3 linked regions of the Homo sapiens genome follow. The protein of the gene in region 2 interacts with the protein of the main gene of each other region in a biochemical or structural test. Each region holds a gene or a part of one and is shown on either strand. Other genes may lie near its edges.

Evidence for each region.
Region 1: the proteins of SOX6 (region 2) and HNF1B form a complex in vitro, tested with the Homo sapiens proteins (one study listed by BioGRID).
Region 3: the proteins of SOX6 (region 2) and NFIC form a complex in vitro, tested with the Homo sapiens proteins (one study listed by BioGRID).

Annotation. Positions count from the first base shown.
Region 1 is NC_000017.11:37,703,560-37,707,059, forward strand, and holds part of HNF1B (hepatocyte nuclear factor 1-beta), read right to left. Parts: exon of another isoform or gene 1,491-3,500; coding exon 1,358-1,490; exon of another isoform or gene 1,181-1,357; intron 1-1,180. UniProt on the Homo sapiens protein: Transcription factor that binds to the inverted palindrome 5'-GTTAATNATTAAC-3'. Binds to the FPC element in the cAMP regulatory unit of the PLAU gene. Transcriptional activity is increased by coactivator PCBD1.
Region 2 is NC_000011.10:16,346,547-16,350,046, reverse strand, and holds part of SOX6 (transcription factor SOX-6), read left to right. Parts: intron 1-3,500. UniProt on the Homo sapiens protein: Transcription factor that plays a key role in several developmental processes, including neurogenesis, chondrocytes differentiation and cartilage formation.
Region 3 is NC_000019.10:3,432,583-3,436,082, reverse strand, and holds part of NFIC (nuclear factor 1 C-type), read right to left. Parts: intron 2,566-3,500; coding exon 2,491-2,565; intron 1,807-2,490; coding exon 1,683-1,806; intron 1,001-1,682; coding exon 876-1,000; intron 1-875.

The DNA of each region.
Region 1 (3,500 bases), on a different chromosome or scaffold from region 2:
ACAAGCTGGTTTTAGGTATCTTATCTCATTCCAAACTCTGGTATTAGTATAATTACCATATTCCATATACCAGAGGGCCCAGTCAAAAGGCAATACATTTAAAATGATCATTTATATTGTGAGTTCTCTAAATGCTTCCCCATTCCCATTTTCCTTCTGCCAAAATCAATGCACTGTGTGTCAATTTCCAAGCAGCTAAGGATAGAGTGAGAGCCACACATATTCAATAAATTTGTGTGCCTCCAATGGGCTTAGCCCTGTTCTGACCTCAAAGGATGTGTAAGTCATTCTCTTCAGAAGTGAGAATCCAAGTTCCGACCCTAGCTAAAGCTGATTTAGGGAGAGAAGAGGGAAGAAAGAAAAAGGCAGAAACAAAACAAAGAGGTGGCCAACATGAGCCCTAGATACAAGGAAGGTAAGAGGACAATGGAGCAATACAAGGTTGAAAGAAAGATGACCAATGTGTTACCCTTAGATCTCTCCCAAGACATCCAGCAATACATCCAAGGGTCACAAGGATGGTTTTGAGAAACAACGACACCTGAGCTGTCATAGTGAAGCTGGAAATATGCTGAATACTCATCAACATTAAAACTCTCAAAGAGATATCCACAACCACAGTTCCCTTCAGCCTTCTCATGCCTCAAGATGGCCCATGTATGGGAGGGCACAGGCTTGCTGTTGAATATGAGCCTCCTGGAGCTGGAGGGACCTGATCCATCTCCGTGTCTTCAGGCGTGTGATGTGCCAAAGCAAGCTTTTTCTCCTTAAAGTTTTCAAAGCTCTCAGATACAATGGCAGTTTCCCTCTGGATCCTCCCTTGGTGTATTTTCACTGCTGGCCAAGGAGATTTCATATACCACACAAAACTCCCCATTTAGAAGGAAACCTGTCATTCTTACTTCATCATCACCAAACAGAAAGAACCTCCTGAAAAATCTACCACCTACTTAGTGATAGGAATGAACTCAAGACAAAGTGTAAGCTACGATGTTATACATATTCATGCTTTAGAGATTTATAAGCATGTTCATATTCACTGTCAGTTGATCACTTTAACAACCTATTTTATAGATGAGGACATTGAATCTCCTGAAGGTTCAATGATTTGACCCAGGATGCACAGCTGCTAAACTGTGACCAGGATCCAAATCCATTCCACAATTTTCTCTTGTTTTAGGCTAAACAATCCAAATATTGGATTTAAGGAGACAGATGAGAAACTAAAGAAGTTAAACCAAATCTACTAGTCGTGGGTGAGTTTGAAGGAGACCTACAGTTATTTTTCACCACATTAATTTGCTTCCCATTCTTCTTCTCCCTGCCCCCAAGTTTTCCAACCAAGAATAGAACTTACTTTGTGCAATTGCCATGACTCCAGAGAGGGGTGTCATGATGAGGTTTTGAGATTGCTGGGGATTATGGTGGGAGAGGCTGTGGATATTCGTCAAGGTGCTGACTGGGGGCAAACCTCCTCCTGAGACTGAGATCTGATGGAGAGAAAAAAACAAGAGAAACATGGGTGGACTTGGACCACAAAGAGCAGTTTCCAACACGATGTGACTTAGCGATTCCTTGGCATGACTAGTTCTCAAATTCATTCCTTCATTCACTCAATAACAATTATTGGCTGGGCATGGTGCTTCACCCCTGTAATCCCAGCACTTTGGGAAGCCAAGACAGGAGGACTGCCTGAGCTCAGGAGTTCAAGACCAGCCTGGGCAACATGGTGAAATCATCTCTACAAAAAAAGAAAAAAACACAATTATTAAGTGTCTACTGTGGGACAGACACTATTCTAGGTGCTGGGGATAGAGCAGTAAGTAAAACAGACAGTGATCCCTGCCCTCATGGTGCATCTATTGTTGACTGTCTGAGTTACTAGCCAGCTTCAGAAATTACTAAGGGTTGGGGGAGATTAGCCATTACAAGGTTTCTCTACTTTTTCCACATCTCCAGTACACATTACAAAATTTTTTTTCTTTTTTGGTCAAGGATCCTATATTGTAATCACCATTATATTTTAATGACAGATTAGTATGAGAAAGCTACTGATTTTGGTGTATTTACTTTGTACATGACCACTTCACTGAATCCTACTAGTGTCTTTTCCTCATTGATTTTTTTCCAAGTATGTAATTGTAATACAAGCATCTGATGGTAACAGGGTCTTTTCCTTGCTAGTACTGATATGTCTACATGTCCTATTATATTGCTTAGAACTTACAGTATTAAACAATAACAGCTGTAATAGATGTGCTTATTTTGCTTCTGATGTTATCAGAAATGTTTCCAATGTTTTCCCATTAACTCTAATTGTAATTATAAGGGCGCGATCAGTTTTAAACACACCTACACTTTTTCCATGATACATTAGTTTACTACTTATAGTTTCAAAATAATTTTTTTCTTTTTTTGAGGTGGAGTCCAGCTCTGTTGCCCAGGCTGGAGTGCAGTGGCATGATCTCTGCTCACTGCAACCTCCGCCTTGTGGGTTCAAGCAATTCTCCTGCCTCAGCCTCCCGAGTGGATGGAACCACAGGCACCTACCACCACGCCTGGCTGATTTTTGTATTTTTAGTAGAGACGGGATTTCACTATGTTGACCAGGCTGGTCTTGAACTCCTGACCTCAGGTTATGTGCCCACCTCAGCCTCCCAAAGTGCTGGGATTACAGGTGTGAGCCACTGTGCCCAGCCTCAAAATAATTTTTAAAGTTATTATGAAGAAAGGACTGGCCCCTCTTATTCTGAACCCAGGCGTGCTTGAGAGCATCAGGAACCCCGAGAGGTGCTTTAGGGTTAGGATGCACCAGATGTCTGAGTAACTCAACTTTCCTTCTTCCATCTTTCACTTCCCAGAGCTTTTCAGACGATAGCTCTCCCACCAGCACCCAGGTAAGATGCTATCTCCCACCCTGCCCTTCCGGTCAACTCCATAGTGTCCAAGGTTAATTTGAAAAAGAAAGAAAGCAAAAACCAAACAGGTTTGTTTGTGTTTTTAAAATAAGCATCAAGAAATGTTAGGGGGTCACATGACCAAGAAGGAATTCTGACCACATCAAACAAGAGAGAAGCAGCCTGTTTGCTGGACTTGTTTTTCAAAATACCAGTCATTAAAAAAAAAAAAAAAAAAATCCGTAGCCTGCCCTCAGACTGAATCTCTTGGGTAATGTAGTTCCTTTGGAGAAAGTCAACCAAGTGACAGTAATTTCTCTGACATTTCAGCATTTGGTTAATGGTATAAGAGAAGTGTGGAGGCCAATGATAAAAATAATTTAAATGTGTGTGACTTTAGGATTTGTAAAGTGCTTTCACTGATTGTCCTTAATAGATAATGACACAAGTAGGGCAGGCATTATTACTATCAGTCCCTGTATTACAGATTAAGAAACTGATCTTCAGAAGAGTTGAGACTATTTCTATGTCACTTGACTCATAAGTGAAAAAGCCAGAGTTAAAATCCAGTTTTGCTGGAGCTTAAATCTTATTCACTTACTA
Region 2 (3,500 bases):
TCCCCCTTTTTTGCTAAACTGGTCTATTTTTGTGTTAAATGATCATAAATGATGTTATTTAGAACAGAAGTATCTGTTCTAAAATTGGAATGGAATATTAGGCATATCAGGCATTAGCTATAGGAAATATTTCAAAAATGAAATGGTTAAAATGGGAATATCAGGCATTAGCTGTAGGAAATATTGGTAAAATGGCATATCAGGCATATGGTAAAAATGGAATGTCAGGCATATCAGGCATTAGCTGTAGGAAATATTTTCTTTCTTGCTTGCTTTCCCTTCCTTCCCTTCCTTCCTTCCTTCCTTCCTTCCTTCCTTCCTTCCTTCCTTCTTCCTTCCTTCCTTCCTTCCTTCCTTCCTTCCTTCCTTCCTCCCTCCCTCCCTCTCTTTCTTCTGTTTTCTTTCCTCTTCTTATTTATTTATTTATTTTTTTGACAGAGCCTTGCTCTGTCACCCAGGCTAGAGTGCAATGGCACGCTCTTGGCTCACTGCAACCTCCACCTCCCAGGTTCAAGCAATTCTCCTGCCTCAACTTCCTGCAGAGCTGGGATTACAGGCGCGCACCGCCATGGGTGGCTAATTTTCATATTTTTAGTAGAGACAGGTTTCACCTTGTTGGCCAGGCTGGTCTCAAACTCCTGACCTCAAGTGATCCACCTGCCTTAGCTTCCCAAAGTGCTGGGATTACAGGCATGAGCCACCTCAGCAGGCCTAGCTGTAGGACATATTTTCTGATAAAAATGACATTATTGATGGAAAAAGCCCCTATATTTAGAGTATTTGGAGAATGATTAGAGTTTTTGCTGTATTAGAAGGAATGATATAAATTTGAATGTCTTAAATCTTGAGTTAGTTATGAAATAAAATCACTTTTCTAAGAGAGCTTTTAAAATGCAGTTTGTTTGGAGCATTATCTATATTAATTATATTCATTTTAATTTGTATCTTAGGAATCTTTGGAGTGCGGGAGAACCATGTCAAATTTTCAGTCCTTTAATATTAATTTAGCTTCAGGTTACTGAGATCACTTTGGTAGTGAGCCAATATGGTCACCAAATTTGGATGAGAATTCTAGATGCTGAGTGTCTGAAAAACAGTTGTGGATATGTGTCCTATGCTTGGTTATTTTTCTAAACTTGTGTAGAGATATTAAATCACTTTCATGAGATGAATTTTCAGCATCAAAAATATAAGCTACTTTAGAAGACGAAAACGAAGCGTAACTCTCTGTTAAAGAAAAATTAAGACAAAAGCTTTTGAAGTTGAATCCTGCCTGTCCTTTTCAACCTTCAGGAAGGTTGCTAGGCTAGAAAGACATCTCTAAAAACAAAGTTTTTATAATGGAAAATGCGCTGACATACCCTTTAATGATATAGGTTCAAATGGCAGTGATATAATTTGTAGGTCTTTGTGCTTGGAAATGTCTGGAAAGTTGTAGTGCTCTTATTAATATTTGTAGTCACTTTTTATGAATTAGTATTTCTTGTTGTTTTTCATTTTTATTTAATTTAAGATGAATAAATCTTATTATTAAATAACATGAAGATTGCATCATAGCCTTCAGGATTAAAATGCACTCCTTTTTTGGGGAAGAAGATAGATGTGTTTCCTCTGTTGAAAAATTTAGATTTGATATTTTGTTTTCTTCATGGTAATTATGTTTGCACTTTGCTGATCACTAGTTGTGCATTATTACAATGGAAGGTGACAATTTGATTGTCTTCAATTGGAGAAACAAGTAATTTTATATTCACTAAGCTGTCAGGTAACACTAACTCACAGTACTAAGAGCTCCTGGCAATGCAGCTTGGCACCTATATTTAACTGCTTTGATGCTTGTGTAACCTCTGCTGAATCAGAAGTACTTTGCCTGCTGGAAATGATTTTCAGGCTTGTACAATGAGGTTTTCATTAAGTAGACAAACTGAAAATGAACTGCAAAGCCATGGTTGTTTTTCTCCTCCCCTTTTACCTTCTCCCCTTTTCCCCTCCTCTTCCCCTCCCTTTCTACTCTCACTCCCTTCCTCCCTCCCTCTTCTTTCTCTTCTTCTTGTCTGTCTTTGAATAGGAACCTGAAACTTATACCTTATTTCATCACATGAAAGAGTGGACTTGGTAGATTGCCTTATTTAGCTAAAGGAGGACCTCAGAGATTAGTTTCTTTATATAAATTTGTTCAGTGTTTGTGTGAATTTTCATATTTTGAAACAATCTAAAGTATCAATATTCATTTTTCTCTTTTTTTCTGGAAATATTGAAGAGGGAAATTCGAGTTAAGGATGGAAAAGTATACAGTGACAATTTCCTACACTTTGTCTCTGAGAAGTTATTGTTCTGGTTTATGATTTTTATTAATATAATTGGATAAGATATCCTGTACTTGGGCTTCCATATTAATGGGCCAGTTTCACGCTGACAGAGAGATGTCTGTTTATTCACTTAAAAAATTGTAGTTCTCATTTTATATGAAGAGGAAATTCAAAGTGAACTTACATAAATAAATTCATTCTGCTATTATTTTAGACAGCTTTCTTTCACTCCAGCCACACAGAGGTCTTTCGTTGAGCTATAAAGTCATTGTGCTAGATTAAAATCCTCTAAGTTAGTGTATATTTATAGTAGCCATTGTTAGGTTTTACTCTTATTGTTAAGTCACTGAATTTATTTATAAAATCTGGGCCTGGCTTTCCAAAGCAAAAATTCCAAAAAGTTATTGGTAGATAAACTGTGAGAAGACCATATTATTTATATCAAGCAAAAAGTATAGATAGAGGTTACATGAAGTCAAGTTGTTTTGATCCCAGGAAGAAACCAGATACTCAGGGACACTTAATAATTATAGGTTTTCCATAGGCAGTCAGTCAGCAGGCCAGTCATTAGGCTGGCTGCCTGTCTCTTCCAGCAGATACTAACCAATTAGACAGAGGTAGTTACGTGATGTAACATTATCAGGAGAAACAATTCATGAGTCAAAGCATTCCAAGACATATGAGCTCTAGTCCAAAGAACAGTCTTAAGCTACATAAAGTGACAGCAATATTGTCAGCTAAATATAAACTCTAGAAACACAAACTTTGATGACTTAAGAAGAATCTGTTCCAGGTAGTTCTTGTTTTGTAAGAAGCTCAGAGGGCCTTTGGAGACAATTTTGGTGCTTTGCTGTGAAAAATTGGACCCTTAGAAAAGTCAGAATCCATTAATTTAAGCACTTTCTTAGACACACTTCAAGGGCTTCAAATGTATTTCATTTACCTCATCTCCATTGATTTGACAGCTAATTCTAATCAGTGAGTTTTCTTCTAATAGTTACTGTCCTCATGTGTTACCATATCTGTTCTGAAAGTGCTGCTACAAACTCTAGAAGATAGGTTTATAACTTTCCAAGGTAATTCTGAAAACAGTTACCTTCTTTTCACCTGAATTTTCTTAATTACTTAATGGAAGAAATAGAAAAATCTGGCAGAAGCAGAGGGAAGTTTGGAGGTGGATTGGGGGAGAGG
Region 3 (3,500 bases), on a different chromosome or scaffold from region 2:
GCCGAGGCGGGCGAATCACCTGAGGTCGGGAGTTTGAGACCAGCCTGACCAACATGGTGAAACCCCGTCTGTACTAAAAATAGAAAAAATTAGCCGGGCATGGTGGTGCATGCCTGTAATCCCAGTTACTTGGGAGGCTGAGGTAGGACAATTGCTTGAACCAGGGAGGTGGAGGCTGCAGTGAGCGGAGATCGCGCCATTGCACTCCAGCCTGGGCAACAAGAGCGAAACTCCATCTCAAAAAAAAGAAAGAAAGAAAGAAAGAAAGAAAGACACCCCAGAGAGGACCCTTCTGAAGACAGAAAAGCAAGAGGATAAAATCTTCCTAGAAAACGACGCCATGGGAATGGAGACCCTACAGAAAGGAGACGAGTCTCCTGCAGAACCAGAAGATCCCATGGAGATGGGAACCTGGTTAAAAAAAAAAGTAACCTCAAGAAGGACCCCAATGAGAAGGGATCCGGCATCTCAGGACCTTCTAGAGGGGAAGAGGACAAACAGGGTCCCTACAGACGAGGGATTCTATGACAGATCCCAGGAAGAGGCGCCCTGTTGATCAGAGTCACTACTGAGTCCATCCTGCAGCTCGGGGACCCCACAGAGATGTGGCATTCACGGCCGGAGGGCAGGAGAGTCAGGCAGGGGACAGTCTCTGCCCTCCTTCGCCGCAGCGGAACCAAAGAGATCCGAGAACGCGAACCCGGACCGTACTTCCAGCCAAGCGCAGCTCGGGACGACTACAATTCCCAGGAGGCCCCGCGGCTCCAGGCCGGCTTCCTGCCCCGCGGCGCCCGCGCAGTGGCTGCCGGAAGACGTAGTTCCCGCCACGGTGACTCAGACCGGAAGGCCGGCTCCGCCCCCGCCACCAGCCCTACCTCCTTCCATGTCCTCCGTCCAGTTGCGGCTGCTACTCGTGGGCGAGCTGGGCGAAGTGTAGTAATCGCCGCCAGGGCTCGTGTCCACGTCTTCCTCCATCGAGCCCGATTTGTGCCGCTTGCTCCTTATGGGCGAGGGAAGGGGAGAGGCTGGTTACCAGGGAGACGCGGGGCGGGGGGCGCGACGGCGGGCTTTGCTACTTCCGGTCCTTAAGTGAGCGGGGGCGAGGGAGGTAGTATCGCGAGACATCGCGGGAGCCGCGGGCGTTCAGCCCGTTCCCTACGAACGCCTGTTCCAACCTGTCCATTGCTTGGATGGGACACCCGGGCCAGAGGCAGGGAGGGTCTCAACACAGGTCGGACACCAAGCTAGCATGGTGGAGACCAAAACCCAGGCAGCCTGGCTAATCTCCTGGCCACCTGTAGTCCTCAGAACTGCCTGTTAGGGGTATGATCCCATTTTATGGATGGGGAAACTGGGGCACACACAGTGTGACCTGCTCGAGGTCACAAAGCATATCTCAGCAACAACCTGTGTCTGCATTCTTCTGGGTGGGGAGGGTCCTAAGGGCTGGCTGAGCCGGCAGGACTTGAGGCTGGGGGAGCCCACGGTGGGCTGTCAGGGCTAGGGGAAGAGGCACGTGGGGCTGGCTGGGTTTTGAAGGATGAGATGAGTAGGAGTTTCTCAGGCCAGGTGAATCGTGAAAAGAGGTATTCCAGGGAGAGGAATGAGTCAGCTCGGGCCAGAGGGGATGGGTTGATGAATGGGGTCATGAAATGCCCAGAGGTGGGGACCTGGGTACTTACCCACTGGAGGAGGTGCTGGGCAGCGTTCTTCTGAGGCCAGTGCTGGCTGGGTTCAGGTCGTATGCCAGGTGCCCCTGCAGCTCCCCCAGGGAGAAGTTGGGTCCTGTTCCAGTCACCACGGGTGCTGCAGAGGGTGACAGAGGAGAGTGAGGCAGGAAGCAGTGCCCAGTGCTGCGGTTTGCTTTAGAGAGGTAGGGAAAGCCACTGGGTGCAGTCCAAAGGGGGACCCCCTTCCCATATTGGCCCGGTTCCTAGGGTGGCTGAAACCAGTTTTATTCTATGGATCAGAGGACCAAGGCCATGGGGAGAGGCCAAGAGCACACTGTGAGGCAGAGGTGTAGCCAAAGCTGGAGGCCAGGCTCTGCTGATCTGGACAGGGAAGGTGTCAGTCAGGGCTAAAGAAGGACAGCGCCCAGGACTCGCTGGGGTGGGATTCAGACAGTGTGTGACGGAATGTGCTGGGTCCCCAGCAGGTCAGCAGAGAAAGCAAGGGGACAGGAGGGGCGGGGTCCTTTGGGGTCTCCTGGGACAGGACAGTGGAGGCCCCAGGGAGGAGGAGGGATGCTGGGGCAGAAGTTTCCTTAGTTGCCATCCAGCATTTAGATTCTGTTTCCTGGAGAGGTGGGAGGGAGCCCTGACCTTGGGCTCTGGGAAGGGCCTGGCCACCTCCCTTTCTAGGAACCTTGGCTTAGTGACACAGGGGGTTGTCTGGAAAGGACAAGGAGTAGGGTGAGGGGGGTGGGCTCCTTCCTCCCTGCGGCCCCCTCCCCTCTCCAAGACCCAGCTCAGGGCTGACGGGAACACTCACTCCGGGACACTTGGATGAGCTCAGTGACGCTGAACACGCCGGAGGTGACAAAGCTCTCCTGGAAGTCGGTCGTGTCTGGAACAGGAAGACAGCGGGGTCAGTAGGCTGAGCTGGGCCTGTTTCCCTTCCCCACACTCCAGGGCTGCCTGGACTCCTGGGGGCTGGCCCGAGCCTGGACGTTCCCCCTGTCCATCCTGTGCTGTGGGGGAATGACAGCTCCAGTCTGATGGGGAAGGCCCCGTGGGGGGTCCTTGTCCAGTGTGGGCCTTCACACAGCCTTCATCCGGGTTCCCCCATGCTGTGGAATGCTGCATTCAAGTGAACAGCAGGCCGGGCGCAGTGGCTCATGCCTGTAATCCCAGCACTGTGGGAGGCCGAGGCAGGAGGAACGCTTGAGCTCAGGACTTCAAGACCAGCCTGGGGAACACAGCGAGACCCCATCTCTACAAAAAGTGTTAAAATTAGCCAGGTGTTGTGGTCCGTGCCTGTAGTCCCAGCTACTCAGGAGGCTGAGGCTGGAGGATCACTTGAGCCTGGGAGGTGGAGGCCGCAATGAACCATTGTTGTGCCACTGCACTCCAGCCTGGGAAACAGGGCGACACCCTCTCTTAAAAAACGAGTGGAGCCGGGTGCGGTGGCTCACGTCTGTAATCCCAGCACTTTGGGAGGCCGAGGCGGGAGGATCACAGGTCAGGAGATGGAGACCATCCTGGCTAACACAGTGAAACCCTGTCTCCTAAAAATACAAAAATTAGCCGGGCGTGGTGGCAGGCGCCTGTAGTCCCAGCTACCTGGGAGGCTGAGGCAGGAGAATGGTGTGAACCCGAGAGGTGGAGCTTGCAGTGAGCCGAGATTGCGCCACTGCACTCCATCCAGCCTGGGCAACAGAGCAAGACTCCATCTCAAAAAAAAAAAAAAAAAAGAGCGGAAAGCGGAGGCCTGGGCTCACATCGGCTCCATCACCTGCCTCGGTGTGTGATCTGGGGCAGGTCACTTTCCCTCTCTCAGCC